2 separate regions of the Homo sapiens genome follow, and region 1 is linked to region 2. The links come from fine-mapping of genetic effects on gene expression. A gene starts in region 2. The other region holds a variant in brackets. All regions are shown on one strand. Distances are from middle to middle.

What was found.
Region 1: its variant is fine-mapped to the expression of CD2AP in lung (TOPMed, PIP 0.92).

The regions. Positions count from the first base shown.
Region 1 is chr6:47,623,530-47,639,487 of GRCh38, forward strand. CD2AP (CD2 associated protein) reads left to right here. Exons shown (of 18, transcript NM_012120.3): 18 at 657-3,734. The coding sequence ends at 698. Among named protein-coding and RNA genes, the nearest start is that of ADGRF4, 67 kb to the right of the region's middle. The variant A/T (reference allele first, on the strand shown) is at 3,890.
Region 2 is chr6:47,464,859-47,481,066 of GRCh38, forward strand. It overlaps CD2AP (CD2 associated protein), which reads left to right and starts at 12,931. Exons shown (of 18, transcript NM_012120.3): 1 at 12,931-13,390. The coding sequence starts at 13,387. It overlaps CD2AP-DT (CD2AP divergent transcript), which reads right to left and starts at 13,214. Exons shown (of 1, transcript NR_187257.1): 1 at 12,385-13,214. RefSeq lists a silencer at 12,693-13,202 and an enhancer at 13,489-14,215.

The sequences.
Region 1 (15,958 bases), 160 kb after region 2:
CAGTATTGAATAACTCTGTGTAGTTATTGTGCAAACTTAATGAAATGATCTCCTTCTTCATAAATTCCTTAAGTTATGAATTTCCTTCTGCCTAAAGGTGGAACTATATCAAGCACCTTGACTGAATCTTAGATATATTCCTGGGCTTTAAGATATTTAATGTAGTATATACTGGTTACAGATAAGTAAATTGAAACCAAGTCAAGTGATTTAACAATAATTATAATTATAATTAAGTATAATTAGTGAAAAACATGGAACTAAACAGGTCTCTATTCTTTTTACTGTTGTTTATGTATCCTTTGTTTAATTATAGATACATGTACATTTCTTAATTTGGTTTCAAGGATTCTTTTGTTCTTTGTAGGACTGACTGATTTTTTTACAGCTTTAATTTTAAATGCTCACATGACTTAACATTTGTTCTGGCTGAAAGGGCTATAATTGCTTTTTTCTTATTGTAACTGCCATTTAGGAACTTGCATTGTACTGTTGAAACTTTATTCAACCAAATTATAGCATGGGAAACTGGATTTTAGGTCTGGAAAAAAAGTCTGAAGGCTTGAAAGTATGATCACATCTTAATGACATAGAGTAAAATAAACTACTAAACTAAGGATATTTTATGTTTGCTCAATTTATGTTTTTTGTTTTAGATGGAAATAGAGAAGCTGAAAAAAGCTGTCCTGTCTTCTTGAGTGGTGTGGACCTGGTGTTCATAATGTTCCAGGGATTCAGAAGCAACGCTATGAACTTCAGCTGACTTGTTACTTAAAAATTGTGAATTCTGTTGTTGTGATAAATATGAGCAAATGAAGTGTAATATCTATAGAAAAGTAGAGTGAGGGTGAATTTATATATATATTTTGTTTTGCCAATATGAAGAAAAAGAGGCCTTATTTCTTAACTGTGCTGGGATTGCAAACACTTTTTAAAAAATTGTTTGCTTGAAAATACTACTGAATATAAATAAGAATGTGCACAGTAGTTTTTTTATTGAAACTTGTATTATTTTTAAAGAGATCTATACTATAAATATGGTGATATATTTACAAGTAATCTGTTAAGATATACTATTTGAGAGGGACAGATTAGCCTTTTAGTAACTATAGTCACTACTTTTTCCATAATGCATAAGGGATATAAACTCTGTGTGTGTGTGTGTGTGTGTGTGTGTGTGTGTGTGTGTGTGTATATATATATATATATTTTTACTTTTATCCTCTTACCGAAGGTTACACTGTTGTGCCTGTTTGTCTGCAATGCTGTTTATATTTTGGGTGATGAAATAGGAGTTTCCTAGCTATATAAACCAGATTACTCACCCATGCATATAGTAAGAACTAATGAATAATCAAAATAATTTCATCAACTTTTAGAATATTTTATGTTGCTTGCACTATAGGAGTCATAAAAGGAACTTAGTTAAAATATGTTGGATTGTTAAACATTTGGGGAAATATGAACTGTATTTTAAATTTGTTAGGTCTGAAGAATCTAAAACTGTTAATTTAACCCTTAACTTGTGCCTAGAAACTACAGCACATATAAAATATGTAAACACCAGCCTGTTGCTGTACTTTTCTGCTTATTTTACAGCCTCAAATATTTCTCATTATCTTGTCACTTAGTTCTTCATGTTTCTCCTTCTGACTTTTAATAATGGTAATAGGAAAACAAAACCCAAAGCTTTTCAGAACTTCAGTGTGAGGTTTCCTATTTTGACAAGTTAACTTGTAAATACTCAGGTTTTACGATGTATAATTTACCTAATAGACCAAACTAACTCATGGAGATATTTTGAACTATTATTTAGGTACAAACTTTATAAAGAATGTTAGTATGTCATAAAATATAACATTACAGCTTATTTAAAACCAAATATAGTTGAACATATTTAAAATACATTTTCACAGAATGGATGAATTAGTTGTTTCTTCAGAGTTACTTATGAACAGTTGAATGCTTTAAAATGTTCTGTCTGTAGGTAACATCTAAAACACAAGTGGGTTTATTTAAATTTTTAAAATTTGAAATTTTTTATTTGCAAAAAATTGTTTTATGCTTTATTATATCGCAAATGAGTGTCAGATTTTTGAGTACCAATGATCATGCTTCCATTTTTTTTAGTTTTAAACCACCAAACCAATATTTTTCCTTTAAATTTTAATCTTATAATATAGAAATCTTATGTAAATGAAATTTTGTCATGTTTCAAATAAAGAGAACTGAAGTAGAAAATAGAAATGCCAGTAAACAACATAATGTTTAATTTACAACTTACATTAGGGGTTTGGGGGAATGCTAATTATATATTGAGAATATACATTAGAACTCTTCAAAATGGGCTCTTCTAATGAGGTCACTACTGAACAAAATTGTTCCCTCTTCTGTTAAATAGAATAGGTTTAAATGACTAGTCAAATGAATTATTTTCTTCTTGTTAAATAAATTAAATCTTACTTTCTTTTAATGACCAACCTTAGGTAAAACAAAAATATTGTAATCCTAGAAATTATCCTCCAGCTTTCTCACCTGAAAATCTATTGAAGTGATCCCTGGTCATCCTAATAATGGGATGAGGGAAGTTTCCAGCAGATTTCAGGCTGTTCTTAAAGTTTTTGTTGGTCATTTTCTCAATAGTACATGAAATCAAGATGCTTATGAGCATGGAAATGTATTTAAAGTTTTTGCTTGTGTCCTCCTCAGTCAGAATAGAAAAGTAACTGAAATACTTTTACCTTTCTGTCCTTGATAAAATAGTAAAGAAAACCAAACAAACCCAGGCCTGATGGGAAAAATGATTCCTTTATTCTAGCAACTTACTTTCTGTTGGTATGGGAAATGTTATTAATTTCTATTACTAAAGTTCATATCACAAAATGATATTTAATAATAACCTTGGGGTAAATCATGAATTTTTTTTCTACGTGTGAGTATAAAAGACAAAAGTTGAACAGCATGGAATCTCATTGCCAAATTATTAGTGAATGTATAGTTCAGGTATTCTTTGAGACACACAGTATCATTAATTTCTGAATTGTATTTCAGTGTTATTTTTTGTTTGTGACCACTAAGCTTCTGTCTTAATACAAAGCTGTTACCTTCTACAGAATTTAAGTCTGAAGATGTAAAGAGAGAACAGGCCTTGTGTAACAGAAGATACTCTTTTTTATGCTCCTTACTGTGATCACAGAAAAATTAAAAATCCAAGTGCTCTCTAGATTTGTTGATAAACATTTTATGCTTGCATTTAAACTTGAAATGTATGAGCAGAATGAGACAATCAGTTAAATCAGAAATGAGAAGTATTATAATGTAAAGGCCTTGTTTTGCTGTAGCAATAAAATGACCAAGTGCAATGACTTGATTTAATAAAATCATATTTTAAAAGTTGCTGCTATGAATATTTTTGGCTATAAAATTTTACCCTGACTTGCTTTCAATAACTGTTACGTAATGCAGTTGATGTTGTAACCTAACATTCCAAAAAAAAAATTGAGAGGGGGAATCTCAAAATAGTATATACTTCACTAACTTGTTTACAGGTGCTGTATTTAAAAGCATGCTTCTCTCTCAAAAAGAAAAATTAAAGGATTTTATTGCCAGTCGTGTCAGTCTTTATTGGTTATTTTTTGTTAACTTTAGCATTTGTGTATTTCAGAGTATGATGAAAATTATATTACTTCAATTTCCAAATACAAGAATAAATAGTAAACCAAAAACATTAAAAATTCTAGACCCGTATGACTTTTACTGAACTTTTCTGAGTCTGGTTTTTCATCTGAAACTGAGACAGTAATTTCTACTTTACAGGATTATGGGGAGAATTTGAAATAGTTTATCTAAATGGCTTTGTAGAGTGCTTGGCATAGAGTAGGTTTTTTTT[A/T]AAAAAAAAATGGAGGCTGCTGTTTTACCTTTTTAAAAAGCATTTTACAGTGATGGATATGATAAAAATTAGATGGATAAGGTTAAGAAAAAGGAGGCATTGTGTATCCTTTCCCCCTGAATACGGTATAGTATCCTTTTCTTTGGGGAGATGCTCCTTTCATTTGTATTATATTGTTCAAAGGGGAGCTGCTACCATCTTACAGATTCTACCTCCTTGATCACCCCACCCAGGAAATCCCTTGAGAGAGTACTTGGCTCAAACTGAGTTACTGAGTTAATCAAAGAATGAAATTTTTAAAATTGGAAACAAAAAGAGCTAATCTCAGCATGGGAGCTCTCCACAGTTCTGTTTTTCTGTCATCTGGAAAAAGCTGATTTGAAAAACAAAATTTAGTAGAGCATAGATAGATGGAAACAGAATCTGGAAGGACTTTGAAACTGATTGTAGCTGTTGCTGAGTCTCAGCTGTCTATTGCTTGGTTCTATAAGCACAGACTTGCTCATAAGCTTGTTGGGTTTCTGAACTCACAACCGAAAAAGTCCTGATAAATAACAGAAAACAAGATGAAATCAGGAGAACATTAAGGTCCACATACTTTTGCTGAACATAGATCACATATAGCTTTAGAGATTCTAGTAGTGTGCTGGAAGATTTGAAACAGAAGGAATAGGACACCACTATAAAGCAATGTGGAAAATTAGTGTGTCATAAGATTTTTAAAATCTTATTTAAAAAATTTCTAGTTCTTACTGGCTTTTAGAAGCACTAGACAAAAAACTTTGGAGGCATATAATGGTAAAAGTTTTGGACTATAGAATTTGTGTTTGAAGAGTGCAGATGGTTTTGTCTGAAAATACAATTTGCAAATTTAGCCCAGTTCTAGGAAATAAAAGCAGGTAGCAGTTTAACTCACCTGGATTTATTAGGCTGTATTCTCAAGATGCAAGAGAGACTGGGTCTGGGTGTTAAAATTTTTTTTTCTGAATCCTGTTGCATTTATTTTACCACTGACACCATTTTTGTGAATCTGCTCTTCCATGTAAGGAAAATAAATTCACAAATAGATATCAGTATTTTTTGTATAGAGTCAATAGTTTTTTTCTGTCATGAAAGGTGTGGCTATTTTGCAACTATTGGATGGTATTATTTCCTATCAGGTTCCAAGTGTTTCTTACTGACTACATTTCAGTTCCCTTTAAAAGTGTGTGAATAAAGTTATTGAAAGTAAAACTACATTTTAAGTGCATTGAGAAACTTTTTTTTTTTTTTATTCCAGTCAGGGTCCTTCTCTATTACCCTGGCTAGAGTGCCGTGGTGCGACCTCAGCTAACTACAACCTCTGCCTCCTGGGCTCCAGCAATCCTCCTGCATCAGCCTCTTGAGTAGTTGGGACTACAGGTGCATGCCACCACACCCACCTAATTTTTTTTTGTTTGTTTTGTTTTTGATACTGGGTTTCACCATGTTGCCTGGGCTGGTCTTGAACTCCTGAGTTAAAGCAATCCGCGCTGCTCCCCTCGGCCTCCCAGAGTGCTTGGATTACAGGCATTAGCCACCATGCCCAATGAGTAACAATTCTTTAATAAAATCACATGTTAACTTTTCATGGTAGAGTGGATTTTTAGAGATATTCCTAAACATTAACTGAACAGAATGTAAACGATGTGACGGAGTGATGACATTTTTACTGTCTTTTCCTCCCTTGAGACTCATTAAAAACAGTAAGTACAATGAAAAAGATTTGATATTAATAGATTAAAAAGCAGATTTAAGATAAAAACATTGCTTTTCAGATGAAATAAGGAAGCTACAATTTATAATAGTAAAAATACCTTCCAAATGTTTTGGAGGGAGCAACCTGAAATCTGATATAAACTTTCCCAGACTTTGTGCCAGATGCAGATTTCTCTGAAAGGCTCATCTGATCATTGTAGGCTCAAATCCTGTACAGAAGGATAGCTGGGGAATGTGGAGCTGAAAGAGAAGCCTCACTAACTGTAAGCCCTAATAATTGGAAGTCTGAAAACCAAGGAGAAGGAGACATGCTCTTAGGGAAGACAGATGTAATGAGAGAATATTTTGGCTAACAATTTATAGCTCTTCTTCCTTGCTGTGCTATTCATCAAATAACTGACACCATGGAAACGTGAGTAATCAGACACAAGTATCTTTATGGATACCTGTGTTTTATATAACAAAAAAAAAGTTGTCCAGAAGAAAACCTTGATTAAAATCCTTTATGTCCCAGGAGGAAAAAAATGGCATGATATGTAACACCAAGACATCTGTTAAGTTATGGAACTTTAAAGAATGAATACTGACTCAAAGAAGAAGTTGAAATTTTTAATTGACTAAACACACCGTAAGTGAATTTGAAACGTATTTAAGGCTCTACAACTGAGAAAGACAGCAAGGCCAGATGATGGCTGTGTTTTAATTGGTCTTTAAGCTACTCAAACTGTAGAAAAAGATGGAAAGCCACCCAATTTATTTTATGAATCCAGCATAACTTTAAACCTGATCATCATAAACCAAATCTCACAGGGAGAGATTTCATATCAGGAAATTTATCAATCTCAATGCATGATATGAAATTATAAGAGAAAAATAAAATGTTCACTTTGATAAAAGGAAGGGGTTTCCTGTACTGGGTATGGTGGTGAAGAACACAGTAACAAAATGGTACCACTGTCTTGATGCGTGCCTAGCAGTTCTAGTCACCGTCACCACTGCGTTTACACTAGCAGTGCAAATCTCAACACAATGAGAAAAGCAACTAGCATCTTCGTATTATCATGAAAGTTGTTTTGACCTTGTGGACCACACTTTGAGAACCACTGACCTAAAATGACCTAGTATGGTCTTTAGCATGTAGTAGACAATCAGTAAATGTTTAGTGGATGAATAAGTGACAAAAGGGGAGGTATTCTCTCTACCCCTTGTCTTTACCGTCTCCTACCTTTTCTTCCTTCCTCAAATATTCAAGTATAATATCTCCTCAAGACTAACCACTATCATGCCGATTGCTATAAAACAGACATTCTTCCAGGGACTGCATTAGGCTCTTAAAATGTATTTAACAAATTTTATATACTGGACTTTAGATGGTCAGTTTACCCTACATTTTATAGTAAACTTACCTTTAAAAGTAGGCATCGCGTCAAACATAGCTAATGTTTATATTGTGCTTACCACATACCAAGTGCTATTCCAAGTAATTGCTATCTAATTTACCTGTCTATCCTATCTAATCATCTCAACAATCCTGCGTGCTAGGAGGTATTATACTCCACACACGGGAAAGAGGCTAAGGAAGGTTAAGCAACTTGGCCAAGGCCACTGAGCTAATAAGGCCTGGAGCTGAACTCAGCCCAAGAAACCGAGTTTTGAAGCCTGTGCTTTTGCTCATAAGCTTTATTGCCTCTCTACATAGATAATATATAGGAAAGAAGGAGCCTGCCTGGGGAATATTAATTTCTTCTAGTCTAGTCTTACTTCTTTCACTCTTTGTGATCCTTTATATTAAGTCTGTCAACATTTTTCCACCAGTAAGAGACTAAATGTAAAGTCTATTTTCAGGGATCTCATAGTTTTTAGATTTCTCTGTGATGTGGTCACACAAGATTTTGGGAAACGTTCTTCATTTCTTAGTGTACATCTTTGCAAACTTAAATGGTTTTCATGGCTTTTCAGCAAAAACACAATAAACAACCTTACGTAGCTTCCATAAAGAAATTAAATGGGCCAGGCACGGTGGCTCATGCCTGAAATCTCAGTACTTTGGGAGGCTGAGGTGGGAGGATTGCTTGAGCTTAGAGCCCAGTCTGGGCAATATAAGGAGACCTTGTTTCTACTAAAAACAAAACAAAAACAAAAACTAACTGGGTGTGTTGGTGTGCATCTATAGTCTCAGCTACTTGGGAGGCTGAGGCGGGAGGATCGCTTGAGCCCAGGAGGTTGAGGCTGCAGATCGCGCCACTGCACTCCAGCCTGGGCAAGAAAATGAGGCCCTGTCTTTCAAAAAAAAAGAAAAAAGGAAAAAAACAAAATTAAATGACCACTAGATGGCAGTCAAATAAAGCTCAGCTTATATGTGTCTTGAAACCATAAACAGGTAGCAGCTGCAAATAAAATCAGAGAGGGCTCCAACCTTCACCCAGAACTGGGACACAACCAACCCTACTTCCCTAGCCTGATTACTTCCCCAAGCTAAGTGCCACATGATAGGGTAAAAAGAGTTGGGGCCTTGGAATCGAACTGATCTCGCTCTGAAAACTGGCTCTAAAAATGAGTAGCTGTGTGAACTTGGCAAATCACTCAAGTCTTATCCCTTTCCTTATCTAAAGAGACATAAAAACTTTGTTTTGCCAGAATTTAAACCCTTTCCTTCTTGCCGTTTACTCAGGGAAGAGGGAGAAAGGAGGCCCTGAGTTCTGGGAGAACAAGTCAGACAGCAGCAACAAAACCATCTTGCTCTTGTTTGTCATTTCTGTTGGATGTTGACGCCTTGAGGGCTCCTTTGACCCCAGGTTGCTGCAGTGAGTCCTGAACCTTTTCTCACATGTGTTATTTGCCACTTCCTGTCCTTGATTCTCTGGTGGCACCTCCCGTTCCTCCATTTTGTCCTGCAATGTGCTCCTACCACAACCAGGCCAAAGAGAAAGCAAATCCCATTTATGGTTGCTTATGTAACCAGCTCATATAATAGTTTTGTAGTGAGCTTTGTGCTCCAGGCTTCTTAAGGAGTTTCTGGTAGGGCATCTCTGGTTTTGCCACTTCTGTCTTTTTCCTATGTGAAGTCTAGTATAATTCATATAGAGTTGGAGTCTGCCAGTACAGTCCAGAGCCAGTGGTCAGTGGAGAGAGTCTATGGTGCCACGACCATGCCTGAAAAAGTGAATCCATTTTCTGCCCAAATTCTAAGCAGGAAATGACTTTTCTCTCCAAAATGGGGTTAAAATGTCCATATTGTGGTGATGATGTGACTGTAGGGTCACAGAAGCAGAGAATAGTCCTACCCCAGAAGGAACGTGGTCACCTGAAAGACTTCAGAAGTGAAACATGCTATATAGGAGGACAGAGCAAGACAACATCACACAGATCTTTCCACTGACAAAATAGCCAGCCATCTGCAGTATGCTTTAGGGAAAAGCAAAACCTTTCATGGATATCAGTAAGTCTTGACCCAGGGCTTAGACAGTATTTTGAACAAGTGACAAAACTAGTGATTATGATTCTTAATAGTGATAAAAATCCTGGAGTATGAGAAAAACAACATAGTATACATAAAAGTATTCAGGGACCGTTTCCTTAGTCTCACCAAGATTATCACCAGTTCCATGGAGAGAGAGGGAGAAGTAGAGAATGAAATAAAATAATGTATATTCGTTTTAGTCTATTGAATTTGTGAATGTATGTGTAATGCAAAAATGCCTTTATGTTTGTTTATCTTGATCTGAACCTGTGTTCTTACTGAGGCAAGAAAAAAATTGCCATTCAAAGGCTACATTCTCATCTGGCTTATTAATTAATTGATTATTTTTTTTGTACGTGTATGAGATGGAGTCTCACTCTGTTGCCCAGGCTGGAGTGCAGTGGCATGATCTCAGCTCACTACGTCTGCCTCCCGGCTCAAGTGTTTCTTGTGCCTCAGCCTCCCAAGTAGCTAGACTATAGGCATGTGCCACCATGCCCTGCTAATTTTTGTATTTTTAGTAGAGACATGGTTTTGCAATGTTGGCCAGACTGGTCTCAAAAACTCCTGACCTCAAGTGGTCTGCCCGCATTGGCTTCCCAAAGTGCTGGGATTACAGGCATGAGCCACCATGCCCAGCTGTCATCTGGTTTAAATTATAAATCACTGCATATACAAAATAAGTAGCAATCAACATAAAATTCCCTTGGGCTGTTTCTCCTCACTCAGGGATCTGCCTTTGTTCTTAGTGTGGTGTCTGTGTGTGCAAGAAGTGGATACATCCTCTAGGGAGCAGGAGGAGACAAGACTCCGTGTTTCTGAGCCTCTTGCTCTCCTCTGCCCCTTTCCTCCCTAGTTGAGTATTGATGTGAGAAGACATCTCACCTCTTGCCTGGCCCTTGCTCTTGCTCTCTGTGTCGGAACTTCTCTTGTTCAGAACCAGAAGGGCTCTGGATTAGCTTTCTATTGCCGCTGTAATTATCACACAAATTTAGTGGTGCAAAAACAATAGACATGTATTATTTTATATGCTGGAGGTCAGAAGTCTGACATGAATCTCACTGGGCTAAAATTAAGGCTTCCAAAGGAAGCTCTAGGGGGAAAATTCCTTTCCTTGCCTTTTCCAGCTTCTTTAGGCTGCTGGCAATTCTTAGCTCATGGCCCCCTTTCCCCATTTTCAAAGCCACCTGTAGAGGGTTGAGCCCTTCTTAAACTGCAGTCCTCCATCCTTCATGCATAATCACCTCTCCCTGATTCTGTCTCCCTCTCCACTCTTAAAAACCCTTGTGATTACATTTGGCCCACCTGTCTGAAGGCTCTTAATCACATTAGCAAAATCCCTTTTGCCGTGTAAGGTAATGTATTCACAGATTCCTGGGACTAGAATGTGTGTATATATCTAGGTGGCAGTGGTGGTGGTGGGGATTATTCTGCCAGCCACAGGCTCTCTGCTTCCTGTCAGATTGAAATGTTCCTATATTCTAGCCTTCTTTTCCCTATGCTGTGGTATTCACCCTTCCCTTCTTTATGGCAGTAAAGGAAGGCTTCAGACAAAGGATTCAGCTTACCAGTGAGTGAAAGTACTTTTTAGGTGGGGGGTGTTTTAAAAAATCATCCCCAGAATAAATAGTGACTTGCCCAGGGAGTTTTGAGGGGCATTGATGAATACAGTGAAAAGGAAACACTTTACCCTGGGAATAATTCACCATTCCAACAACTAGACTCTTAAAATTAGCTAGACAACTAATTTCATGGTAGATAATGACACTGGAAAGAGGAAGATAATAAGATCCCCTGCTGATCAAATCTGAGCCTGAAGCCTATTTAGTGACTAAGATAAGAAATGAGGTTATCGACTACTTAAACAACAAAGCTGAGGAAAACTGGGTGGTGGACAAAGAAGAGAAAATATAAATTAAAAATTTGAGGGTGAATTTTAGAACTTTAGAAGTAAGTTTTCCTGATGGCTGAGAATTCAAACCAACATACTTTCCTGTCCTTGTGATAAACAATACTGGTACTGGACATTCTTTCCTGTCCCAAGTGAAATACCAAAAGCAAACAAAAATAGATTAGGTACTTGCTCTCCAGGAAATATTTGCTCTTGGAAGATAAAATTCTGAATAAAACAAAATAGCTTATTAAGGGAGAAGACTACCCCTCATATTGTCTTATGCCCAATTTCTGCCTCCAAAGAAAGAAGAAGTAAAAACTAAAAGACAGAAATGAAATCCACAGGCAGAGAGCCCAGCGCCGCACCCTGGGCCTGGTTAAAGATTGACCCCTGACCTAACTGGTTATGTTGTCTATAGATTCCAGACATTGTATGGAAAAGCACTGTGAAAATCCCTGTCCTGTTCTGTTCCATTCTGATTACCAGTGCATGCAGCCCCCAGTCACGTACCCCCTGTTTGCTCAATCAATCACGACCCTCTCACGCAAACCCCCTTAGAGTTGTAAGCCCTTAAAAGGGACAGGAATTGCTCACTCGGGCAGCTCCGTTTTTAGAGACGTGAGTCTTGCCGAAGCTCCTGGCCTAATAAAGCCCTTCCTTCTTTAACTTGGTGTCTGAGGGGTTTTGTCTGTGGCTTGTCCTGCTACATTTCTTGGTTCCCTGACCGGGAAGCGAGGTGATTAACAGACTTCGAGGCAGCCCCTTAGGAGGCTTAGGTCTGCCCTGTGGAACATCCCTGTGGGGGACTCCAGCCAGCTTGAGCAACACGAATCCTGAGAGCGCTCGCGGGTAGGCAATTGCCCTAGTGGAACAGCTCACCAGAGCAGTGCCTGGCAGGCCCCCGTGGAGGATCAACGCAGTGGCTGAACACCGGGAAGGAACTGGCACTAGGAGTCTGGACATCTGAAACTTGGTAAGACTGGTCTTCGGAACTCGCCCACTCCATTTGAGTGGAAGCGTGGCCTGATCACCCATGGCAGCCTGTACCTGCGCTTTGGTTTTTGTTTTTGACTTGACTTGGATTGCTTGATACTTGGGTTTTGGTTTTGACCTGGCTTGGATTTCTTTTTTTATTTTATTTTATTTTTTTATTATACTTTAAGTTCTACGGTACATGTACACAACGTGCAGGTTTTTTACATATGTATACATGTGCCATGTTGGTGTGCTGCACCCATTAACTCATCATTTACATTAGGTATATCTCCTAATGCTATCCCCTCCCCCGACCCTATGACAGGCCCGGTGTGTGGTGTTCCCTACCCTGTGTCCAAGTGTTCTCATTGTTCAATTCCCACCTATGAGTGACAACATACAGTGTTTGGTTTTCTGTCCTTGTGATAGTTTGCTCAGAATGATGGTTTCCAGCTTCATCCATGTCCCTACAAAGGACATGAACTCATCCTTTTTATGGCTGCATAGTATTCCATGGTGTATATGTGCCACATTTTCTTAATCCAGTCTATCATTGATGGACATTTGGCTTGGTTCCAAGTCTTTGCTATTGTGAATAGTGCCACAATAAACATAAGTGTGCATGTGTCTTTATAGCAGCATGATTTATAATCCTTTGTATATATACCCAGTAATGGGATGGCTGGGTCAAATGGTATTTCTAGTTCTAGATCTTTGAGGAATCGCCACAGTCTTCCACAATGGTTGAACTAGTTTACAATCCCACCAACAGTGCAAAAGTGTTCCGATTTCTCCACATCCTCTTCAGCACCCATTGTTTCCTGACTTTTTAATGATCTCCATTCTAACTGGTGTGAGATGGTATCTCATTGTGGTTTTGATTTGCATTTCTCTGATGGCCAGTGATGATGAGCGTTTTTTCATGTGTCTGTTGGCTGCATAAGTGTCTTCTGAGAAGTGTCTGTTCATATCCTTTGCCCACTTTTTGATGGGGTTGTTTGTTTTTTTCTTGTAAATTTGTTTAAGTTCTTTGTAGATTCTGGATATTAGCCCTTTGTCAGACAGGTAGATTGTAAAAATTTTCTCCCATTCTGTAGGTTGCCTGTTCACTCTGATGGTAGTTTCTTTTGCTGTGCAGAAGCTCTTTAGTTTAATTAGATCCCATTTGTCAATTTTGGCTTTTGTTGCCATTGCTTTTGCTGTTTTAGACAAGAAGTCCTTGCCCATGCCTATGTCCTGAATGGTATTGCCTAGGTTTTCTTCTAGGGTTTTTATGGTTTTAGGTCTGACATTTAAGTCTTTAATCCATCTTTAATTAATTTTTGCATAAGGTGTAAGGAAAGGATCCAGTTTCAGCTTTCTATATATGGCCAGCCAGTTTTCCCAGCACCATTTATTAAATAGGGAATCCTTTCCCCATTTCTTGTTTTTGTCAGGTTTGTCGAAGATCAGATGGTTGTAGATGTGTGGTATTGTTTCTGAGGGCTCTGTTCTGTTCCATTGGTCTATGTATCTGTTTTGATACCAGTACCATGCTGTTTTGGTTACTGTAGCCTTGTAGTATAGTTTGAAGGCAGGTAGTGTGATGCCTCCAGCTTTGTTCTTTTTGCTTAGGATTGTCTTGGCAAAGTGGGCTCTTTTTTAGTTCCATATGAACTTTAAAGTAGTTTTTTCCAATTCTGTGCAGAAAGTCCTTGGTAGCTTGATGGGGATGGCATCGAATCAATAAATTACCTTGGGCAGTATGGCCATTTTCATGATATTGATTCTTCCTATCCATGAGCATGGAATGTTCTTCCTTGTTTGTGTCCTCTTTTATTTCATTGAGCAGTGGTTTGTAGTTATCCTTGAAGAGGTCCTACATGTCCATTGTAAGTTGGATTCCTAGGTATTTTATTCTCTTTGAAGCAATTGTGAATGGGAGTTCACTCATGATTTGGCTCTCTGTCTGTTATTGGTGTATAGGAATGCTTGTGATTTTTACACATTGATTTTGTATCCTGAGATTTTGCTGAAGTTGCTTATCAGCTTAAGGAGATTTTGGGCTGAGATGATGGGGTTTTCTAAATATAAAATCATGTCATCTGCAAACAAGGACAATTTGACTTCCTCCTTTCCTAATTGAATACCCTTTATTTCTTTCTTCTGCCTGATTGCCCTGGCCAGAACTTCCAACACTATGTTGAATAGGAGTGGTGAGAGAGGGCATCCTTGTCTCGTACCAGTTTTCAAAGGGAATGCTTCCAGTTTTTGCCCATTCAGCATGATATTGGCTGTGGGTTTGTCATAAATAGCTCTTATTATTTTGAGATATGTCCCATCAATACCTAATTTATTTAGAGTTTTTAGCATGAAGGGCAGTTGAATTTGTCAAAGGTCTTTTCTGCATCTATTGAGATAATCATGTGGTTTGTGTCTTTGGTTCTGTTTATACTCTGGATTACATTTATTGATTTGTGTGTGTTGAACCAGCCTTGCATCCCAGGGATGAAGCCCACTTGATCATGGTGGATAAACTTTTTTATGTGCTGCAGGATTTGGTTTGCCAGTATTTTATTGAGGATTTTTGCATCGATGTTCATCAGGGATATTGGTCTAAAATTCTCTTTTTTTGTTGTGTCTGCCAGGTTTTGGTATCAGGATACTGCTGGCCTCATAAAATGAGTTAGGGAGGATTCTCTCTTTTTGTATTGATTGGAATAGTTTCAGAAGGAATGGTGCCAGCTCCTCTTTGTACCTCTAGTAGAATTCGGATGTGAATCTGTCTGGTCCTTGACTTTTTTTGGTTGGTAGGCTATTAATTATTGCCTCAATTTCAGAGCCTGTTATTGATCTATTCAGGGATTCAGCTTCTTCCTGGTTTAGTCTTGGGAGGGTGTATGTGTCCAGGAATTCATCCATTTCTTCTCGAATTTCTAGTTTATTTGCATAGAGGTGTTTATAGTATTCTCTGATGGTAGTTTGTATTTCTGTGGGATCGGTGGTGATATCCCCTTTATCATTTTTTATTGTGTCTATTTGATTCTTCTCTCTTTTCTTCTTTATTAGTCTTGCTAGCAGTCTATCGATTTTGTTGATCTTTTCAAAAAACCAACTCCTGGATTCACTGATTTTTTGAAGGGTTTTTTGTGTCTCTATGTCCTTCAGTTCTGCTTGGATCTTAGTTATTTCTTGCCTTCTGCTAGCTTTTGAATGTGTTTGCTCTTGCTTCTCTAGTTCTTTTAATTGTGATGTTAGGGTGTCAATTTTAGATCTTTCCTGCTTTCTCTTGTGGGCATTTAGTGCTATAAATTTCCCTCTACTCCCTGCTTTAAATGTGTCCCAGAGATTCTGGTATGTTGTGTCTTTGTTCTCATTGGTTTCAAAGAACATCTTTATTTCTGCCTTCATTTCGTTACGGACCCAGTAGACATTCAGGAGCAGGTTTTTCAGCTTCCGTGTAGTTGAGCAGTTTTGAGTGAGTTTCTTAATCCTGAGTTCTAATGTGATTGCACCATGGTCTGAGGAACAGTTTGTTATAATTTCTGTTCTTTTACATTTGTGAGGAGTGCTTTACTTCCAACTATGTGGTCAATTTTGGAATAGTGCAATGTGGTGCTGAGAAGAATGTATATTCTGTTGATTTGGTGTGGAGAGTTCTGTAGATGTCTATTAGGCCTGCTTGGTGCAGAACTGAGTTCAATTCCTGGATATCCTTGTTAACTTTCTGTCTCATTGATCTGTCTAATGTTGAAAGTGGGGTGTTAAAGTCTCCCATTATTATTGTGTGGGAGTCTAAGTCTCCTTGTAGGTCTCTAAGGACTTGCTTTATGAATCTGGGTGCTCCTGTATTGGGCGCATATATATTTAGGATAGTTAGCTGTTCTTGTTGAATTGATCCCTTTACCATTATGTAACGGCCTTCTTTGCCTCTTCTGATCTTTGTTGGTTTAAAGTCTGTTTTATCAGAGACTAGCATTGCAACCCCTGCTTTTTTTTGTTTTCCATTTGCTTGGTAGATCTT
Region 2 (16,208 bases):
AAAAAAAAAACCAGAAAAATTGGTAAGTTTAAATTACATGCACGTTTAAACTTTCTAAATGACATAAAAACACCATAAAACATTAAAAAAAACATCAAATTGGGAAAACATACTAGCAAAACTTTTGACAGACTATATCAGGCAGGGTGTAACCAGGAAATGAGAGATCACTCTAAACTCCTGAAACAAAGATAATCTAATAAAGGAATTGTTCTCAGAGGTGATGGAAGAGAAAAGAAGCAAAAAAGGGGTTGATAAGCCCTTTAGAAGTTATCAACAGCAGGTAGCCTCTTTGCCCCTAAACTGGAAGGAAAAAAGGAGGATGTAGTGTTCCCAGTGCCCAGAGCCCTGCTGGAGCCAAAACCAGACAGCCCTCTCTGATGGCAGCAGAAGCCATAGGGAATATGCAGTGGATGTTAGAGATGCTGCTTGAAGTAGAGGATGGGGTGGAGTGCAAACGTCCCAGCTCTTTCCTCCCTCTTGACTTCTGTATTAGTTTCCTAATTGCTGCTATAACAAATTACTACATACTAGCTGACTTGGAGCAACACAGATTTATTTTTTTACAGTTCTAGAGATCAGAAATCTGAAATGCCTCTCACTGGGATAAAAACAAGATGTCAGAACTGCATTTCTTTCCAAGGCTTTAGGGAAGAATCTATTTTCCTTGGCTTTTCCAGTTTCTTGAGGCTACCTTTCCTAGCTCCTCTTTCCTCTATTTTCAAAGGCAGCAATGGCCAGTCAAATCCTTCTCATGCTATCACCTTTTAAGTTCCCTTGTGATTACATCGGTACTACCTGGAAAACCTAGGGTAATCTCATTTTAAGGTCAGCTGATTTGCAAACATAATTCCATCTGTAACTCAATTCTCCTTTGCTATGTAATATGATGTGTTCACAGGTTTCAGGGACTGGGAAGTAGGCATCTTTGAGGGAGCTCTCCTTGTGCCTTCCATACCTTCCAGTCTCTCACCAGTGCCTCTCTTTGTCCAGATTCAACTGGAAGCCAACTGACTGGGAAAGGAGTCTGCAAGGGCCAGTGCTCCACACCCCAACTCTCGTCCCACACAAACCCAGGGGAAAGACAGGAATGGATCTAAGAGCAGATGGGTACCTGGAAAAATAACTAATATCCCTAGAATAAAGAGTTCTTAGAAATCACCGAGAAAATTATAACAAAAAAGACAAATGAGCCAAGGATATGTGCTGGCAGGCTGGCAATTTTTAGGCAAACATATGAAAATAGTATACATATGTAAAGATTCTCAACCTCCGTAATCTAAATTGAAACAACGAGCTATAATTTTTTTGTATCCTATGGGCTAAACTCAAAAGATTGTTAATATCCAGTTTTGATGACAGTATAGACTATTGAAAACAGTAACTGGTGAAACATTTTTGGAAGGCAATTTGGCAAAATATAATCAAAATGTAAATGTTTTTGGCTTTTGATTTAGTAATTCCACTTTTTTTTTTTTTTTTTAAAAGATATTGAGCAAGGCTCTGTCACCCAGGCTGGAGTGCTGTGGCACTATCCTAGTTCCTTGCAGCTTTGAATTCCTGGGCTCAAGCAATCCTCCCACCTCAGCCTCCCAAGTAGATGGAATTACAAGCCACAGGTCACTGATTCTGGCCTGACACAGACTAGACACTTGATGCTTAATTCACTTAACATATGACTTGATCCGTATACAAACCACTGAAGAAGGATTCCTTCAGCTCCTCCACTGACCTCTTTCTCTCTCTCCTCCTCCTCCTCCTTCCTTTTAAACAAAGGAAGAAATCACAGCTCAAGGAGTGAATTGACCTAAGATAGGCTGGAGCCTCAGCTATGGAATTAGCCCTGAATTCTCACAGGCTCTGCTTCTTAATGGTTATGTGACCTTAGGCAAGTTAATTAACTAGTCTCAGCTTCCTGCTCTTTAAATAGGGTGATAATACTACCACTCGTAGCATTGTAATGAAGGTCATGTCAGATGAGGTGTATGAAGTGTCTAGGTCCATGCTTGAGACTTAAAATGGTCAGATGGTGTTAGCTGTTATTGACATTGTTGTCATTGCTAACATTGTCAAACTAGAAATAGTATTACCTCCTTCACTAATTTGTCTTAAGGAGTACATTGAGATTTGTGTACTGTGAGAAAGCTTTGTCACCTTACCATGGTCTCAGTAAGGCCCAACATTATTCTGTGAAAATATATTTGGCAGTGAGGGAGGTAATCAAAGAGGTTACCTTTGTAGCGTTTACAAAACCAGTTAAACTGGATTGATAATCTAAGGATGGTGTTAAAGAGTAAGGAAAGACATAGTGTAAGATAGAGAAAAAGGATAAGAAAGGACAAAGTGAAAAAAGGATGAAGATTACAGCCTAGGAAATGGAAAGGGAAAAATGTAGCCCAAGTGTAACATTGTAAGTCCAAATCAGAGATATAACTATTGAGGGGCAAAAAGAGGGCATGGACCATTTCAAAGAAGCAATTCCACACAGAAGAAGGTTGGCAGAGTGTGCAGGGGACTATTTAGGATGCATCAGTTCCCTGGTTATGAAGTGGAAGTATTGGTATAGGCCTCGGGGGTAAGGAGGTTGAAGTGCACTCTAATTTACTTGATATTTAAATAAATGTGAGACAAGGCAGATGATGGCTGGGGAGGTATGGGGAGACAGGGAGGTTGAGACTTGCTTATGAACCGCATATAGAATGTGATGCAGGTGGCCGGGCGCGGTGGCTCACCCCTGTAATCCCAGCACTTTGGGAGGCCGAGGCGCACGGATCACGAGGTCAGGAGATCCAGACCATCTTGGCTAACACGGTGAAACCCCGTCTCTACTAAAAATACAAAAAATTAGCCGGGCGCGGTGGCGGGCGCCTGTAATCCCAGCTACTCGGGAGGCTGAGGCAGGAGAATGGCATGAACCCGGGAGGCGGAGCTTGCAGTGAGCCGAGATAGCGCCACTGCAGTCCGGCCTGGGAGAAGGAGCGAGACTCCGTCTCTCTAAAAAAAAAAAAAAAAAAAGAGAATGTGATGCAGTTATGGGAGTGTTGAGACCTGGCCTGGAAACCTAAGAACAAAATGTGAATAAGGAATAAGCAGAGAGAAACATCTCGGTGTATGAGACTCTTTTGCTTTGGCAGGCATTTAATTTTGGGCACCAAGATAATGTCAGAACACGTAGCATAAAAGCTCCAGTACCAGATGGGATATAGCCCTTATTGTAATCTGTGCAGTTTAGGAAGTTAGACTGGGATATGAAATAAAATTTCCATTTATTATTTTGGAAATAATGTATGGCTAGGGCCAGGAATAAGTCCTTACTTATCAATAATAACATTGAATGTAAATGTACTAAACTCTCTAATCAAAAGACATAGATAGTGGCTAAATGGATATAAAAAAACAAGACCCAGTGAACTATATCTACAAGAAACATAATTCATGTATAAAGACACACATAGACTGAAAATAAAGGGATGGAAAAAGATATTCCATCCCAAGGGAGCCAAAAAAGAGCAGGAAAAGCTATACTTATACTAGACAAAATAGATTTCAAGACAAAGTCCACAAAAAGAGAAAAAGATGGTCATGATATAATGATAAAAAAGGTGAATTCAGCAAGAGGATATAACAATTGTATATATATATGCACTCAACACTGCAGCATGCAGATATAGAAAGCAAATAATATTAGAGCTAAAGAGAGATAGACCCCAATACAATAATAGCTGGAGATTTCAACACCCAACTTTCAGCATTGGTGAGATCATCCAGACAGAAAATCAACAAAGAAACGTTGAACTTAATCTGGACTATAGGCCAAATGAATCTAATAGATAGTTACAGAATATTTTATCCAACAGCTGAAGAATACACATTCTTCTCTTTAGCACATGGCTTATTCTCAAAAACAGACCATATGTTAAGCCACAAAACAAGTCTTAAAAAATTCAAAAAATTGAAATCATATCAAGTATCTTTTCTGACCACAGTGGAGCAAAACTAGAAATCAATAACAAAAGGAACTTTGGAAACTATACAATCACGTGGAAATTAAACAATATGCTCCTAAATAACCAGTGGGTCAGTAAAAACTCTAAGAAGCAAATTAAAAACTGTCTTGAAACAAATGAAAATGGAAACAAGACATATCAAAATCTATGGGATACAGCAAAAGCAGTACTAAAAGGAACATTTTTACCAATAAGCGCCTACATCAAAAAAGTAGAAAAAATCAAATAAATGATCTAACAATGCATTTTTATAAACTAGAAAAGCAAGAGCAAACCAAACCCAAAATTAGTGAAGAAAAGAAACAATGAAGATCAGAGCGGAGATAAATGAAATTAAAATTTAAAAAAAATGAAAAAAGTTGTTTTCTAAAAAGATAAATTGAGAAACTCTTAGCCAGACTAAGAAAAAAGAGACAAGACCCTGATAAATAAATTCAGAGATGAAAAAGGATACATTACAACTGTTACTGCAGAAATTCAAAGGATCATTAGGGGCTACCATGGGCAACTATATGCCAATAAATTGGAAAACCTAGAAGACTTGGGCAAATTTCTAGACACCTACAACCTACTAAGATTGAAGCTTATGAAATTCAAAACCTGAATAGGGCAATAACAAGTAACAAGATTGAAGCCATAATAAAGAATCTCCCAGCCAAGAAAGTCCAAGATCCAATGTCCTCACTGGTGAATTTCACCAAATATTTAAAGAAGAACGAATACCAATGCTTCTCAAACTATTCCAAAAAATAGAGAAGGAGGGAATACTTCCAAACTTATTCTATAAAACCAATACTATCCTGATACCAAAACCAGACAAGGACACATCAAGAAAAGAAAACTACAGGTCAATATTTCTGATGAATATTCATGTGAAAATCCTCAATAAAATACTAGCAAACAGAATCCAACAGCACATTAAAAACAGCATTCATCATGACCATGTGGGATTTATCCCAGATATGCAAAGATGGTTCAACATAAGTAAATAAATCAATGTGATTCATCATATAAGCAGAATGAAGGACAAAAACTATATGATAATTTTAACTGATGCCTAAAAACCATTTGATAAAATTCAACATTATGATAAAAACCCCCCAAAAAACTGGGTATAGAAGGAACATACCTCAACACCATAAAAGCCATGTATGACAGACTCACAGCTAGTATCATACTGAATGGGGAAAAACTGATGAGAGGAAAAAATGGCCTTTCCTGTAAGATCTGGAACAAGAAAAAGATGTCCACATTCACAACTGTTGTTCAACATGGTGCTGGAAGTTCTATCTACAGCAATCAGGCAAGAGAAGGGAATAAAGGGCACCCGAATTGGAAAGGAAGAAGTCAAATTATCTTTGCATGCAGAAGATATAATTTTATATTTGGAAAAACCTAAAGACGCCACCAAAAAACTATTAGAACTGATAATCAAATTCAGTAAAGTTGCAGGATACAAAATCAACATACAAAAATCAGTAGCATTTCTATATGCCAACAGCAAACAATCTAAAAAAGAAATCAAGAAAGTAATCCCATTTATAATAACTACATATAAAATAATATATTTGGGAATTAACCAAAGAAGTGGAAGTTCTCTACAATCAAAACCATAAAATACTGATGAAAGAAACTGAAGAAGACACACACATACACACACAAACACACACACACACACACAAATAGAAAGATATTCCATGTTCATGGATTGGAAGAATCAATATTGTTAAAATGTCCACACCACCCAAAGTAATGTACAAATTTAATGCAGTTCCTATCAAAACACCAATGACATTCTTCACAGAAATGGAGAAAACAATCATAAAATTAATATGGAACCACAAAAGACCCAGAATATCCAAAGCTATCCTGAGCAAAAAAGAACGAAACTGGAGGCATTACGTTATGCAACTTCAAATTATACTACAGAGCTGTGCTAACCAAAACAGCAGGGTACTGGCATAAAAACAGACACATAGACCAGTGGAACAGAATAGAGAACATAGAAATTAATCCATACATCTACAGTGAACTCATTTTCAACAAAGGTGCCAAGAACATACTTTGGGGAAAGAATGGTTTCTTCAATAAATGGTGCTGGGAAAACTGGATACCCATATGTAGAAGAATGAAACTAGATCCCATCTGTTGTGATACACAAAAATCAAATCAAAATGGAGTAAAGATTTAAATTTCTAAGACCTGAACCTATGAAACTACTAAAAGAAAATATTGGGGGAAACTCTTTAGGACATTGGACTGGGCAAAGATTTCTTGATTAGTACCCTCACAAGCACAGGAAACCAAAGCAAAAGTGGCAAATGGGATTACATCATGTTAAAGAGTGTCTGCACAGCAAAGGAAACAATCAACGAAGTGAAGAGGCAACCTACAGAATGGGAGAAAATATTTGCAAACTATCTGCCTGACAAGGGATAAATAACTACAGTACATAAAGAGCTTAAATAACTCTATAGGAGAAATTTAATAATTTGATTAAAAATGGGCAAAAGATCTGAATAGACATTTCTCAAAAGGAGATATAAAAATGGCAAACAGGAGGCCAGGTGCAGTGGCTCACGCCTGCAACCCCAGCACTTTGGGAGGCCAAGGCAGGCGGATCACCTGAGGTTGGGATTTCGAGACCAGCCTGACCAATGTGAAGAAACCCTGTTTCTACTAAAAATACAAAAATTAGCTGGGCATGGTGGCGCATGCCTGTAATCCCAGCTACTTGGGAGGCTGAGGCAGGAAAATTGGTTGAACCTGGGAGGCGGAGGTTGTGGTGAGCCAAGATTATGCCATTGCACTCCAGCCTGGGCAACAAGAGCAAAACCCCGTCTCAAAAAAAAAAAAAAATGGCAAACAGGTATATGAAAATATGCTCAACATCATTGATCATCAGAGAAATACAAATGAAAACTACAGTGAGATATCATCTCTCCCCAGTTAAAATGGCTTTTATCTAAAAGACAAGTAATAACAAATGCTGGTGAGAATGTGGAGAAAAGAGAACCTTTGTACACTGTTGGTGGGAATGTAAATTAGTATAGCCACTATGGAGAACAGTTTTGGAGGTTCCTCATAAAACTAAAAATAGAACCACCATAATATGATCCAGCAATTCTACTGCTAAGCGTATACCCAAAAGAAAGGAAATCTTATATCAAAGAGATATCTGTCCTCTCATGTTTATTGCAGCACTACTCACAATAGCCAATATTTGGAATCAACCTAAGTGTCCATCAACAGATGAATGGATAAAGAAAATGTGGTACATATACACAATGGAGTACTATTCATTCATAGAAAAGAATGGAATCCTGTCATCTGCAAAAACATGAATGGAACTGGAAGTCATATGTTAAGTGAATTAAGCCAGGAACAGAAAGACAAACTTTGCATGTTCTCACTTATTTGTGGGAGGTAAAAAATTTAAAACAATTGAACTCACAGAGTGTAGAATGATGGTTAGAAGAGGCTGGGCAGGGGTGGGGAGAATGGGAATGGTTAATGGGTGCAAAAATATAGTTAGATAGAATGAGTATGATTAAATAGAATAACAGGGAGAGCACAGTCAACAATAATTTATTACACATCTTAAGATAGCTAAAATAATATAATTGAATTGTTTGCAACACAAAGAATGGATAAATGCTTGAGGTGATGGATATCCCATTTACCCTGATGTGATTATTATGCATTGTATGGCTGTATAAAAATATCTCATGTACCCCATAAATCTATACACCTACTATGTACCCACAAAAATTAAAAATTTCTATAGCATAAAATTTTGCAGAGATTCAAATAAGAATACTACAAATTAATTATTAAATTGAAAATTTCCCCAGTTTATTTGTCTGTGCCATGTTGATTCGAAATGCAGGTTCTCCTCAATAAGGTACATTTTATTTAAATAAGTGCAAGTTGAAATAGTTAGGTATATCTTTGCCTTCTTAGCTGGAAATCACATTCCTTGAAGGCAGAGTTTGTGTTTGCTGCAATGAATCTTTCACAGTGTCCAGCATATGAAATCCCTTGTATCTTATATTAGTTTAAACATTTATTGTATTAGTAAAAAAACATATTTACTAATTATTTGAGGGTAGTGGGTGCTTAATCAATGCTTATTTAACCAAATTTTTTTGTACCTAATTTTTTGTGACTTGTGTGCATTTTTTTTATGACCGTGGATGTAGCTGGAAAAGCAAATCAGTTGCCTACTTAAAATACTTCATTAATTGCCTCTTACTTCTAGAACAAGACGTCAAATTACTTCCCTGGCACACAGTGCTCTCCATATTTGAGTGTGGTCTCAGAGCCTGGCCCCTCAAAGACATCCTAGCCTTTTTTTTTTTTTTTTTTGAGATGGAGTCTTACTCTGCCACCCAGGCTGGAGTGCAGTGGCATGATCTTGGCTCACTGCAACCTCTGCTTCCCGGGTTCAAGTGATTCTCCTGCCTCAGCCTCCCAAGTAGCTGGGATTACAGGCACCCACCACCATGCCTGGCTAATTTTTGTATTTTTAGTAGAGATAGGGTTTCGCCATGTTGACCAGGCTGGTCTTGAACTCCTGACCTCAGGTGATCTGCCCGCCTTGGCCTCCCAAAGTATTGGGATTACAGGCGTGAACTACCACGCCCATCCTGGGCTTTGGATTGTATACCTGCCTATTGTCCTGGCTACCTGACTACCCTTCCTTGTCCTTACTGAGAATTCCAATGTACCCTCGAGAGACTCCCCAATCCTTTCTCTTTTAAGGGCAAGGACTTTATTTCTATCTCTATATTTATCATCCAGAAGCTGCTCATTTGTAATGGGTGATCAGAAAAACATCTGTTGAGTTGAATAAATGTGTACTTGTGACTGGAAATTATTTACATAATACCATGTGTATAATTTAACTGCCTGATATTTGAAAATGCAAATGTATTTGTTATTTGAGATTACTTAAAATATGTGACCCTTCAAAAGGAGCTAGCTTTAATATTTGGGAGGAGTAATGCTTCTTGAAAGATATTCCCTTTAAAGGCCTATGAGTCTCCTATGACTTGCCTATCAAATGCCAGCTTTATGACACTAGCATCTGAATAAAGTGCAAATAACACCATTAAAAAGGTCCTTGCAGTTGGCAAGTGGTGATTCATTTAGATGGGTCATCATGTTTTTAATTAACTCTTTCTTAGTATGCAATAATGAAAAGTGCTTAGAGTGGTCATAGGCCTGAGGACATCCCCCAAGTTGCTAGTCGAGGAACAGTATTTTGTTGCAAGCTGAATGGGCCACCAGTTTGAGCAGGGGGATTTTTCAGCTTCAATGATCTCACAGTATAGGCATTCTGATTGAGGTTATTATTTCCTACAATTGTTTTCTAAAGAATGATTTTTAAAATGCAGATTATACATTGATGTAATTTGGGCTTAAGTTTACAGTAAATTAGCCAGGCCAAAACAAGGTAGCAGTAAGAAAACTTCCCAGGAAACCTAGTACTTTTGAATGAGAATAAAGAAAAAATAATTAGTCACAAGATTTTAGCTAAATGAGTGCTTTAAAAATAATATAATTTAGTTAACACTTATTTTTCTTTAGCATAATCTTCTTGGTTATAATAGTTTTTACCAAAAGGAAAGAAGGCAGATGCTTTTTTAAAATATAGATATCTTCAGATAAATTCCTAAGAAAACTTCAGGAAGAAATCATGGCAGTTTAGCATGAATTACGTTGGTCTGAAATTGTGTCATTCACACAGAACTGTAGTGCTCTCCTTGATATCAGATCAACATGTTTAGTACTTGGCAGAAAAAAAGAAAGTGAATGATTAGAGTGGTGTTAGTCCATTTGTACTGGAATACAAAGAAGAATAAGGACAGATGGACAGAAACAAACCTAATCCAGTATAAAGGTAACAATAAAATAAAGGGAAAAGTAAAAGATAATTTGTTTTTAGATTAAAGGAATTTAAATTTAATATATGTGGTAAGTAGAAATTATCTTCTCACCATATTTTCTCTCATTCAACTAATAATTATTGCCAGGGAACGCAATGTTTTGAGCTGCAGACGGTGGTAGCCATATAAAAACGTATAAAACATACTGCCATACCTTGAAGGCCTCTTATAGCTGAGAAGGTAAGATTTAAAGGATGAAAAGAGCTTAAAGGAATAATTAATAACTAATATTTGCATAGCATTCAAAAGTTTAGAAGGTATTTTTACATACCATTTTGTAAGTTTAAAAGTAAATTGCTAGATTTCATTCTTCTGTTAGAATTTCCTTTGGCTTTGTCTTTGGAAAACAACATTAAATTTGGGATTGCGATTACTTCTTAGATTTACTTCAGTTTTCTCAACCATTCTTAGGGGTTCTATTCCCTGATCCTTCCAATTTCTATGATTTGTCATCTCATCATTACCTCAATGGATAATGCCTCTGAATTTGCAAAGTGAATTTAACTTTTAAACTTGTAAAATACGTACATTAATTATGGCAATAACTGATGCTAGAATTTTTTTTTTTTTTTTTTTTGAGACAGGGTCTCACTCTGTCATCCAGGCTGGGTGGAGTGCAGTGGCAGGATCACAGTTCACTGCAGCCTCGACGGCCCTGGACTCAGGTGATCCTCTCACTTCCGCCTCCCAAGTAGTTGAGACCGCAGGCCTGTGCCACCATACCTGGGCTAATTTTTGTATTTTTTTTTTTTTTTTTTTTGTAGAGATGGAGTCTTGCTATGTTGCCCAGGCTGGTCTCAAACTCCTGGGTTCAAGTGCTCCTCCTCCCTTGGCCTCCCAAATTGCTGGGATTACAAGTGTGAAGATCCTGGAATTTCTAGGACATAAATGATTGTAAATGTTTTATCTTGTTGTCAGATCATGTGACCTGACTTCTCAGAAAATATCTACCTTATCTGTGGCCTCCACTTCCTTATCATTCAATTGATAAAACCTTTAATCTGAATTTTCTATTATATATATATTCTGAATATGTAGTTATATATTATATATTCTATTATATATATTCTGAAATTATATTTTCAAAGATGCCCTTATTATCAAATCTGATAGTCTTTATTCCCCCTTCTGTTTTACTTAACTTCTTTTCCATTCTATTCATTGGCCTTTCTTCTTTAAATATTAAGGATTCTAGAGACCTAGAAATTTAGTCTCTAGAAACTTAAGGGCTCTGGGCCTTGAATTTACTACCTATGTATGTGCTTCCAATAGCTTATATTTTTGTCTCCTTTCATGAATCCTTCTTAGCCCATCACCAGCCTCATTCTTCCAAATCGTAAATGGCCTTCCTTATGGGCTGCTTGAGCCACACACATTTCTTAAAGGCTCAGAAATACTCTGTTTGCATATCCACTTCCATTCCTCAGTTCTAGGACTCCTCCAGACTGAATTATTGCCTTCCCCAAGCTTTCGTTCAACTCATACCTTCTCTTTACAGCTTGCTTTGCCCACAGTAATTTATTTTCCTTTAAATTCTCAAGCATTTGACCCTCACTACCTCATACTGTTAATTAACTTTGTGTTCGTATCTCACCCCCCTAGAAGAATGCAAAATCTCTGAGGATTAGCGCTGTACTTTAGCTTTTTATTTTTTTGCTTGGTAGGGGACAACGAACATAATGCTGAACACATATTTGTTACCTAAAAAAGGCACATGTTCCATGATGTCAATGTAATCTTGTTTAGGTGAGTATATTCAACTTTTTTCTTTTATCCTTTTTGGCTGCTGTTTGTGAGTTTGATCATTCTTGTTATAAAATTACCACATGTAACCTTTTGAGAAGCATTAGAAGAATTAAAAGATGGCAAAAGCAGGCCTATAGGAAATAGTGGTAATGGATACGTCCAAGGTTACTACTATGGGCCACTGTGCTCTGCATTGCAAGATTTGTTTGAACATACTCAAGAAATTGAAGTTCAGACAGGTTAATTTATCCAAGGTCCCACAAAAAGTAAATGGCTGTGCTGAGTTTCAAGGACCCATGTCTGCCTGGATCCAAAGGGCAAGTCAGTTTCAGTGCTGGATGACTGAGAATTACAAAATTTCTTGAAAAAGCACTAGGCACAATAGTTGGCGTTCAACAAACGCTCACACACACATCTGCCCTGGAATTGGGTCTACTTAAACAGAAGGGGGAAAAAAAGCTTGCTGAAATAATTATACTTCTTCGTAACTACCAAGCTCATGTTTGACTGACTATAGTAATCCTATGCCCTCCTTCACATTGACGCTAGAAAAAATGCCTGGCAGTATTTCAAATCATGATGCCTATTTTTCTCTCGATCAAGTAACAACTCAAATTATACTTTAAAAAGAAAAAAAGCAAATTATAAAGTTGCATTCAGCTGACAAGAGACTAAAGGAATCTGTGAAACAGAATTTATTTGATGCCTAGGTTTCTCCCTCACCCGACGAAGACCAAATGCTGCTGATCCGTAAGTAACTTCGCAAGGTAAACTGAGGGGCCTGGCAGCATCTGGGCCTCCCTTAAAGGTCGAAATCAAGTGCGCTCGCCCTCCTTCTGTCCGCCTTTTCCCTTTAAGGTCCTCGAGGCTGCTTCGCTGCAGAAAGTAACTCCGCGTCGCCGCCGCGGAAAGTGGGGCAACTTTGCCTATCAGCAGAAACCTTTTGATCCATCTGAGGCGACAAACCAGACCAAACGCCCGCCCAAGCTGTTCCGAGCCTCCGGGGGGAGAGCGAGCCCAAGCTCCTCTGCACCGCTTCCTCATCCGCTCGCTGCACCTGGACGCGGTCGGCGCGCGACCCCCGGCCGTGACGTCACCGCACCTGGCAGCAGCCGTGGGGACCGGGAGAGAGCCCGAACGCGACGGGGCGGGGTGGGGCGGGGAGAACGAGGGCGTTCTCGCGAGATTTGCCTCCTCCCGGTCCCAGCTCCCCGCACCTTCTCGGCCTCTGTCTGGGTCCCCACCTTAGTCTACGGTGTCGCCTTTTCTAACTGCGAGTGCTAAGGAAGAGGCGAGGGGCGGGCTCCGAGGCTAGGCGGGCGCTCGGGGTTGGAGCCGAGGGTCTGGGCAAACCGGTGGGTCCCTCCCCACTGCGGGAGCGGCCAGGGTGGGAAAACCGCGGTCGGGCGGGCGGGGTAGGGCCCTCCCGCCGCCGTGGCTCCTGGGGAGGCCAGGGGTGAGGAGCTGTCGCCGCCTTTGCCTCTGCCTCGAGGGCCGCGCTGAAGAGACTGGTAGGAGAGCGCCGCGGGCGGATGGAGGCGACTCTTCGCCCCGCCTGAGCTCAGGAGGGGCTAGCGCGGAGCGCGGGTCCCGCCTCCAGCCGCGGGAGCGGCCGCGCGAGCCACCACTGGAGGAGGAGGAGGAGGAGCGGACGTCGGCTTCTCCCCGCGGGAGCCCCCAGCATGGGTAAGAGACTCGGGCGCTTCCCGCCGCCCGTCCGGACCTTCCAGACCCGGGGAGGCTGTGCCCTTTCTCGGCCTTCTGGGGAGGCGACTGCGGTCAGCCCCTGAGCGGCAGCACCCCACCCTCTCCATTCTCCCCACCGCCCCTTCTTGCCCTGCCTTCCACCTTGCTCTTCTCACGGAGAAACTGGTGGGAGAGCTCGCGGGTGCTTTCCCTCGCTCTCCCTTCTCCGCCTCTTTTCCTGTTCACCAGAAAGGTGCGGGATGGGGGGCGGGGGCGCCTGGCCACCTCTGCTAACCCCTTGCCCAGCTAAAATCAGACCTGACCTTCCTTCCCTTCCTCATCCCCTTGCTTCCCTCCCCCTCCTCGTGGGATGGGGGAGGGCGATCGAAAAACTTGATAAAGTAGCACTTTCAACTTCTTTATTTTCTGCGAGGCTTTGAATACGTTTAAGGAGAGAGATAAATTTGTTCAAAAACTTTTTTTTTTTCCTGCTGAAACTCGCAAGGGGTGCCTCAAGGACAGGAAAGCTTGAGTATTTGTTTTACTCGGGTTCTACCTAGGCAAGTGTGTTGGCACCTAAGCATTCAGTGTGCTCCCGAGGACTGGGTTTGGACTTCAGTGTTGGATCCTTTGAGGAGCAGTTTCCTGTTTGGAGTTAGACTTCCTTGCCGGAGGAGAGAAAAATACAAGGCCTTATATGTTATTTACTATGTGCTTTATAGTTTTGTTTGAAGTTAGAGAAGGCAGAATGTGTGGCAGTCCGGGTTGAAAAGGAGTTTTGTTAAGTGGTGTAACAATTTCTTTTGATAACAAAGTTCGGTGTGGGCTAGGCATTAAACTAACTCCCTCAATCCTTTAAAAATTAAAAGCAACTTAAGAATAGCTTACAAAAAACAAAACACCCTGTGTCTCTATAAGGCAGAACGTGTTCTGTAAGAGTAAACCCAAGTTTGATTTTTGTAGAGCAAATCAGGAGGACCCTATCACTTTTTGCAGTTGAGAGTTGGTACTGCTTCATATCAACAAACGATCACCGAAATGAATAATTCATGTAATTAACAAATGATTTAGAAGCAGGACGAATACAGACTACTGCTGATGTGGCACCCTCTGTCCACACTTTGCTTTGTGGGGGATGTTTTGAGCATATTGTTTATAGACACTCGCCTAGCTATCCTCTGTTTTCTTAGACTTTTCTAATTTTATGTTCCCTTCTCCACCTCCCTCCTTTCAGGTAACTTTCATACTCAAAAGTGCTCTTGAGCTCAAAAACAGTGAAATAAAACATTTGCTATTTGGAATTTTCAAATGAATTATTTTATAATTGATTAGTTGAGCTTGCAGGGCAATTGTGGGCATATTCTTTTAAGTATGAAATTATAAAATCACTTTAACTGCTTTGGATTAAGATAATACTAAAGTTAATTACACAGTTCTTTTCTGTCTTAAATGGGATGCAGAATAAAATTAAACTACTTTGGATGACCTGGGGATGCAGTCTTGTTTTGCATATAGGGCTTTTGAGCTAAATTCTAAATAATATTTGTTCGCATTTTGAAATTATTTAAATACTTTTTTTTTTTGCTTTGCTTTTGGATGTGCTTGTAACTGATTAGTGTCCCCCATCATCTTTCCTTTTCTAATTTTTTTTTAGAAGTGTGGAAATCATATTCAGGTTTGTGATTCTGCATAGGGGAAAAATCAGTAGGCCGTTACTTAGTGTGTGAGGTCGTCTCTGGAGAAAAGTAAATGTGTACCAATACTTGGACATTGGAATACCTATTTTGATTGTCCAGAGGCTTTTTCTTTGTGATTTATTTGTTGTGTTCTGTTTAGGTGAGTTTTCATATAGACTTGGATATCAATGTTGGTATACTCTCGACTACTTAGAATGTGTTTTGAAGGTATGTTACTGAGGGCATTTGTGGTTAAGTTTTTGTAAAGTGTTTGTGAAACATTTCCATATCAATATATATATTCTTTAAGTTTATTGGTCATGTAATAATAAAATTCCCAAGTTCACTTAAAGGGAGTTTGCTCTTTAATATAAATCTCATTTATTTGGTTTTACCAGCCATCCTTTTTTCTTATGATTTTAGATGCAGCCTAAAATATTTACATGATATTTTATCTAATTTGTCACAAAATGAAAAAATCTGAAATTTTTTTTGTGTGTAAGATAATTTGGATGCCTATTAAATGGTGGTTCTTAAGTTTAGGTGGTACAGCTAGAGAGTTAAAAGCATGGGCTCTGGACAGAGACTACTTGAGGTCAAATTCTCTTCTACCTACTGGCTGTGTGACTGAGCACATTACTTCTCTGTGCTTCAGTTTCTCAATCTATAAATGGAATAAAATATCAACCTCATAGGTTGTTAGGAGGATTGAATGAGTTACTACTTGTAAAGTGCTTAGAACACTGCCAGTGCTGGCGGTGGTGATTTTCATTTTCAAATGATTTCCCTAATTCTTGTACCAACTTGGGAAAAAAAAAATCTCAATTTTTGACCTTTGTTAGAAGTAGGATATTTTCTTTAAATAAAGGACCAGAGGGATGAGATGATTTTGCACTAAGGCAGAAATTGAATTTTATGTGATATAACCTTACAGAAACCACATAGATACTTTTTTCAATGTTGGATGTACTGTGCGAAAGTCCATTATTGGTAAGAGCTTTAGTTGCTTAGGAAAAACTCTTAAGTGGGATGACTACTAGTAGACTTATTTGAAGTTTATGTTTTTAGTGTCTACATTTGTTAAATGTGATAAAATGCCTATTGAGAAGTTTGAGGTATTCTGTGTGAAAGAATTTGGGAAG